Linked DNA regions of Homo sapiens. The protein of the gene in region 1 interacts with the protein of each later gene in a biochemical or structural test. Each region holds a gene or a part of one and is shown on either strand. Other genes may lie near its edges. The genes, in order: FBXO15 and SRPK1.

Region 1 (4,020 bases):
ATGACCTATTAATGTATCCTGAAGTAAATTTAGCAGGACACAACTGTTTGTCAAAATAAAATGAAAAAGAACATAGTCGGCATGCATTACATACACTAAGCATAAACGTCATTTCATGAACGCTGCTTTCATTGCACATGAATGTGTGGTCTGTATATGCCCATACCGCAGTGGATATGTAAAAAGGCCTGAAGAGCACTGCCCATGGACCTAGCCCACCCACTAGCCAGCCCTTCCTTCTCCCGCCTCTTCCTTTCCACTTTAGATTTCACTGGCCTTTGCTGGAATAACACTCTTGCCAATGCACATACCTCCCTCACTCCCCTTGCAACACACCTTAGGGCCAGGTCCAGCAAAACCCCAGCCCCAGAGGAGCGCAGTTATTTTCTATCTGTCTGGACCTGAGCACCAAGCACAGCGGGAGGGCTGCACGCAGAGCTGCTGGGTGCCCATGCAGCTGCACCATCCTCAGCTCGGCCTGACGGTCCCACCCTGGCTCTCTGGGTGGCTCCCTCTCCGCCTCATGGAACAACACCTCATCCCCTCCCTCAGCCCTCTGCATCCTGCTAGGAGGGTGATCTCTGCAGAGAACCTCGGCCTTCACAGACAGGGGAGAAGGATGTTTTCCTCAACTTCCCACTGCAGATCCACAGCCCAGCTCCTCTGCGCCCACCTCTCCTCACATGTGTTTCTCATCTGCTCCTCCCGGGTGTGGCCCAGTAACCTCCTGCTGCAGCGTAGCCCATCTTGCAAAGGCATGATGTCCCTCTCAAGTGACTACTTCTGTCCTCCCATCAGCTTTTAGTCTTTAACACATTCAAGTAACTCCCATCTTAGAGAGGCAGAGAGAGGGAAACAGCCTCCCTGGGCCCCGCAGGCCCCTGCTCTTTCCTCGCTTCCCAGACAACCCTCTCCAAAGAGCTGTCTCCGCTGGATTTGTCCATTAATACCCATTCACTCATCAAACCACTCTGGCCTGGTATCCTTTTTCCATCATCTGACCGAACATCTCTTGATAAGGCCACTAAATCCAGTGACCATCTGTCAGTCTGCTTCTCAGCAGTGTTTAGTTTTTCAAGAGAACAGTGAAGAGTAATTCTACCTCTCCAAATGCATCCAGAACCCACAAGCCCTGCAGCTCTCTACCCACTCCCATTGCTGAGGTTCCTACAGCTTGGTCCTAGGCCCTATTTTCACTCTATGTAATCTCTCCCCATAAATGGAACTCATCTACATTCACATCCTAAGTTATCACCAACATGCCTGTGATTCCCAAAAGTTTATCTCCAGGCCGAACTTCTTTTCTAAGTTCAAGACCTAAATATTCAAGTGCGTACTCAACTTCTGGATCTTTCAACGGTCCCTCAAGTCCAGCAGGACTATGCCCAAACTCAGGACCCTCCCAGCAAAGCTCTCCTGGTACTCCTCGTCCCAGGGACTGGTGGAACCATCATCAGTCATCTGGCTGTGCATGCCTGAAATGTGGGCGTCCTTCTAGGGGCCTCCCTCCTAGCCCTGACGAGCCAACCATCACCCAATCCCGTTAGTTCTTACCTCTCTTTCGAATCGCTTTAATTTTGTCCATCTCCATTGCCACTGCCCTAGTCCAAGTGCTATGGTCTGAATGTTTGTGCGTCCCAAAATCCGTGTCTTAAAATCTGATCACCAATGTGACTGTTTAGGCAGTGCGGCCTCTAGGAGGTGATTAGGTCACGGGGGCAGAGCTCTCATGAATAGGACTGAGGTCCTTATAAAAGAGGCCCACAGAGCTGTCTCACTCCTTTTACCAGGTGAGGACACTGCTAGAAGGTGCCTCTAGGAACTAGGAAGAGGGCCCTCACCAGACACCCATCTGCTGGTGCTTTGACCTTGGTGCTTCCAGCCTCCAGAACTGTAAGAAGTAAGTTTCTATTGCTTAAAAGCCACCCAGCTGATGGTGATATGTGATAGCATGCCAAGCAGACTAGGAAACCAAGTGACTGCTCTTCCTTTAAGGAGGCAGCCATCTAACTGATCTCCCCACTCATTCGCCATATTCAGAAGACAAACCTTTACAAAACATGAGTCTGAGCATATCACCCTGAGACAACTTTCCACGGCTCTCAAGAAAGAACCAAATTCCTTCCGGCTACCATTAAGGCCTGACCTGGCCTCATCCGCCCATCCCACCTCATTGCACACATCTTGCCATCTGTGCTCCAGCCACACTGACCCTTCACCCTTGAACACACCATGCCCCCAGCTGACAAAGAGCCACCCAAGCTCCCCTGCTGAGAGATCCTCTTCCCATCTTCTCTTTGTCCATCTCAGCATTCAGTTCGAATACCAGTCCCTTGAGGAAGTTTCCCTGATACTCTCATCTCAACTGACCATGTACCCAATGGGCAGAAACACCAGTGTGTTGAATGCAGAACTTGATACAGCTGCAGTGCTGAAACTGACTCGGCCCGGCCAGTGCAGGTAGAGATGGATGCTAAGCACCAAGAGGGCAGGACTTAGGCCAGCTTGGTTCAGCATCGTGCCCCTGGCCACCTGCATATGCACACAGTCACTGAAGCTCAACCACTATGTGCTGAATGAATGAATGAGTGTGATAAAATGAGAGGGAGGTGGTAAGAGTAGTGATGGAGGTGCTGGTTGTTATTAAACACTAAGGTAGGACAGCAGGAGCCCTAATGCATCAGGGGCAGCAAACACCAGGAAAGAAGAGATGGGTGAAGAAGCAGCCAGCATGAAACACACTAATCCCTGATGGGAGAGTGCACGCCAGAGCCTAAGGCCCCTCACATCAGATGAGCTACACAGTGAGACCACCCAGGAACCCCTCAGACACCTGACCTTGCTCCCTGATGCCTTTCCCAGGCAATCGGCTGCAGTGGTCCTGGAACAGCAGCGACCAGCCCCACACAGCCTGTTCCACAGCACCCACTGCTTCCTGCATGACAGGGACCACCACACACAGAGCCTGGGCTGCGAGGAGGACACCAGAGTGGGGAGCAGGTGGGGAATAAGAAAAAACACCCTACACTGCAGCCTCACTGAGGCTGAGAATGGGGGAGTTGAAGCCAATACTGAGGGCCAGCAGATGGCTCTGTCTTTGGCAGGCAGCCGGAGCCCTCCTGGAATGGGCATTACCACTGTGGCCGTTTTAGAGAGAAGGCTCTGAGGTCTAAGCACCTCTGAGATAACACAGCAGGTGGGACTGCATGGTGCATCCATCTTCCACACCCCACCACCCTGCACGACCTTAGCCACTGGGCTAGCAGTCACTTGACTGTGTTACTTACAACCTCACCAAACCCACCAGCATAGAGATGGTGGTTAGATCCTATGGGAGGAAGGAGGTGGAGCCCTGGGTCCCATCACCTGCGAGAAGGTTGAGGAGGAGAAACCCTGGCAGAAGTCAGGAAGGAGCGGCCGGTGGGGCACAAGGGCTCCTTGGTGAGGACGCTGCTCACAGCCCTAAGCCGTCGGTGGGTGTCTCAGTCTTTCTGCTCTCCCACCTCCTCTGCTGCCAGATCAAGAGCTGGGAGCTGACTCTCCTCTGAAGCCCTCCTAGTTCTCAAAGTCCAGCATTCTCCAATTCCCTCCTAACCTAAAACATGGCCTAGCACACGATAGGCACATCAAACTCTTTAACAACATCCACAGATACACCAAAATCCAAATTCTTTCCTGAGGGTTTCAAGGCCCCCCCCCGACCTGCCCCAGCAGCCTTTCCAATGCCCCCCAGTCACTGTCCCTCCTGTCCCCGGGTGCTAGCCCACCCCAGGCAGGACAGCCAGCTAGGAAGAGGCCCGCCTCAGCACCAGCCGCAGCGGCACAGTGGGTCTCGCACCCCTCCCCGGGCCAGCTGCCCCTCACCTCTAGAAGCTCGCTCCTTATTTCCCATCCTGTCCGAAGCATCTCTTTCTCCACTGGGTTCCTTCTCCAGAATAAATCACTCCCAACCTTCTGGGGGGGGATGCATGTCAGAACCTCTCATGAGCCTTCCTCCCACTGGCCCCTTTCCTCTTTCTC
Region 2 (3,500 bases), on another chromosome or scaffold:
GCCATTCTGTTGCTTCTGCAGCCAGCCTCCGAATGTACTGCTCATTCACTGACAATAAGATGTTCTCTGGTTTAATGTCAGTGTGGATGATACGGCACTTGGTATGTAAATAATCAAGACCCTGTAACACCTGAATGGAAATAGAGTGGCAGACTTGCAAACACAAAATACAGGCTTTCTGGAGAAGTAAGAGATTATAACATGACATTAAAAAAAAAAAAAAGATATGATAGCGTTTTCTATAGAGAATAAAAGCACCTTTTAAAAAAGCACAAATAAACTTTCTCAGAAAGATTAAACTATGAAAAAGGCAAGAAATTATTTACAATAAAAAATTCTTCAATGTTTTACAAAGCTGATTCTATTTGGAGATATTCTTCAACTATGTACAATGCAAAGACTGAGAATAAACTTCAACACACACACACCCTCTAAGTGTTGTAATGTAGGTGCTGACAGACATTTAGATATCTTTAATTCAAATTTCCTCACTGAGGAAGAATTGAGGTCTCTTGCTGCCCAGTTTGGAGCTCTTTCCAGGACATATAATCCAAACAAATTTTTGCACCTTGAAGTATTAATATTTTCCTGATGGTAAAATCTATACTGTATATTGAAGGCTCTTTAGAAAATTAGAAAATGCCTATGAATCATGCTGTATAAAGAGATGGCAATAATCTGACATAGCAATTATCTATTCATGTAAAATTACTATTTGCAACCAGAACTTCTGGATAAGGGCTCCAATGTTCCCAAGTCAGGAACCTCAGCTTCCCTTTCTAATTATTATAGGAGGCAAACCTGGGGGAAAATGGTTATGCTAAAACATTTAAAAAGAGAATAAGCACAATAAATTCTAAAGGTTGAATGAAATATTTAATTTTAGCAATTAACTTTTTTTTTTTTTTTGAGATGGAGTCTTGCTCTGTCGCCCAGGCTGGAGCGCGGTGGCGCGATCTCAGCTCACTGCAACCTCCGCCTCCCGGGTTCAAGCGATTCTCCTGCCTCAGCCTGCCGAGTAGCTGGGATTATAGGCGCTTACCACCACACCCGGCTAATTTTTGTATTTTTAGTAGAGACGGGGTTTCGCACTGTTGGCCAGGCTGGTCTCGAGCTCCTGACCTCAGGTGATCTGCCCGCCTCGGCCTCCCAAAGTGCTGGGATTACAGGCGTGAGCCACCGCGCCCAGCCAATAACTTACTTTTTAAAACAAAGAATTTTAAAACAAAAATTCTTTTTTTTTTTTGAGACGGAGTCTCGCTCTGTCGCCCAGGCTGGAGTGCAGTGGTGTGATCTCGGCTCACCGCAAGCTCCGCCTCCTGGGTTCACGCCATTCTCCTGCCTCAGCCTCCCGAGTAGCTTGGGACTACAGGTGCCTGCCAAGACACCCGGCTAACTTTTTGTATTTTGAGTAGAGAGGAGGTTTCACCATGTTAGCCAGGATGGTCTTGATCTCCTGACCTCGTGATCTGCCCGCCTCGGCCTCCCAAAGTGCTGGGATTACAGGAATGAGCCACCACACCCGGCCTTAAAACAAAAATTCTATTGGAAAAAATAAAGTCCTGACACTTCAAGAATATTAAAAAATCACTACATAGTCAAGACTAAGATACTTGCTGATTCAAGATACATACTTGCTGAATAATTTTTTTGACACAAGGCAGTGGAAGCCCCTGATAATTGGATTTGATGATCCACTTGAGCAGATGATGCCCCAAAACTTCAAATACCATGCAGATATCTAGGAATTCATTAAGGAGGGAAAAAACGGCACAAAAGAAGAACACGGCAAGACAAGCTGTGAATTCCACCCTATTAAATGTTATGTATTATTTTCTTTCAGTATAAAAAGTTACAGAGCTTGAATGAATAAATATGTAGCTGTTAATATTCTAAAATTTCAAAGTCTAATGCTATAGTCAATGAAAGCATTCATGAAACATTAAATTGTGGGCGGCTGGCTTCATCAATATTATTATGTACATTAAAATACTCAATGGTAAAAGAAAAAGTGAAACCTACATATGCAAATAGTGAAAGAAAGCAGTAGGCTCAAGCCTCAAGCTGTTGATTAGCTTCAGGTAAATTAGTTTCTTCCCTAATATCAAAATTGGTGTCCAGGGTAAAAATTCCCACTCTCACAGCTTCAAAGCAAGGAAAAACAAATTATTCCTTAACTATAGAAGAGATGAATGTACAAGAAAGACTTAAACCTCAAAAACGTAAATGCCAACATTTTTTTTTAAATAGGAAACTTGCTTAATGCTCTGTATTTTACAAAACTAATCTTGATTCCAGTGCCACCATGTGTTGTCCTTATGTATGAACAACCTGATGACACCACACAGCAGGAATACTCTGAGTCTAAAATTGTGCAGGGCACTACAGAGATTTTAGTAGTATCTTGATGTCTTCCACCCCCACTGGCTTCTACATGCAAGTTAAGACATACATATATAGTAATGGTCTAGTGCTCAGACTTTAACATTCTCCATTAAAGGAAAGCCTGAGCTCCTTGGAAAAATGGCCAAATCCAAGGTAGGAAAAATAACAGGGTAAACTTGGAACACCTTGCTGTTCTAACAAATAAAAGAACCTGTCAGGAAGAAACAGGAACCATCTTGAAAAGGATGTCACCAGCCAACATGGAGACTTCTTTTTTTTTTTTTTTTTTGAGACAGAGTCTTGGCTCTGTTGCCCAGGCTGGAGTGCAGTGGCACTATCTCAGCTCACTGCAACCTCTGCCTCTCGGCACTACAGGTGTGTACCACCACGCTGGGCTAATTTTTGTATTTTTAGTACAGATGGGGTTTCACCATATTGGCCAGGCTGGTCTTGAACTCCTGACCTCATAATCTACCTGCCTTGGCCTCCCAAAGTGCTGGGATTACAAGCGTGAGCCACTGCGCCCGGCCAGACCACTATAAAGGATAAAATTATGAGTTAATATATGAATTAAAAACAGAACAAGTCCACACTGATCTGAAAGTAAGTGTGGAGGCAGGAGGAAGAGAAACATCTTCTTTAGAGAAGAAAGCCAAATAATAAATACATAAGGGATTACAGAAATAGAAAATCACCATTTTTACAATCACTATAGTATACTATTACTGATTCAGGTAAGAATCAGTGAATACTAAAACAACTATGTGAAAGACTGTCGGGAAAAAGGATTGTCACAGTGTCAAAATATCATTCCACAGATTGCTTATTAATTACAAAAAGAACAAAGTACCTTTACAACTGGGAAATCTGGAAGGCACTGCCTTAACCAAGTGATCAAACTTACTACCACCAATGATAAGCACAAATTCACACCATGTGCCTTCTAATGCAATATACTAATATGCATTCGAATGCATATTCTAATGCAATAATCCATGTACTATGCTTGACAAACACGGTTAACCTGAATTTAATCATGAGGAAACAATCAAACAAATCCAAACTAAGGTGGCATAAAACAACTAGCCTGGATTCTTAAATTAAAAAAAAAAAAA

What was found.
Region 2: of the proteins of FBXO15 (region 1) and SRPK1, one has a biochemical effect on the other in vitro, tested with the Homo sapiens proteins (one large-scale study listed by IntAct).

What each region holds. Positions count from the first base shown.
Region 1 is NC_000018.10:74,074,640-74,078,659, forward strand, and holds part of FBXO15 (F-box only protein 15), read right to left. Parts: intron 1-4,020. UniProt on the Homo sapiens protein: Substrate-recognition component of the SCF (SKP1-CUL1-F-box protein)-type E3 ubiquitin ligase complex.
Region 2 is NC_000006.12:35,872,599-35,876,098, forward strand, and holds part of SRPK1 (SRSF protein kinase 1), read right to left. Parts: intron 1,742-3,500; coding exon 1,635-1,741; intron 131-1,634; coding exon 1-130. UniProt on the Homo sapiens protein: Serine/arginine-rich protein-specific kinase which specifically phosphorylates its substrates at serine residues located in regions rich in arginine/serine dipeptides, known as RS domains and is involved in the phosphorylation of SR splicing factors and the regulation of splicing.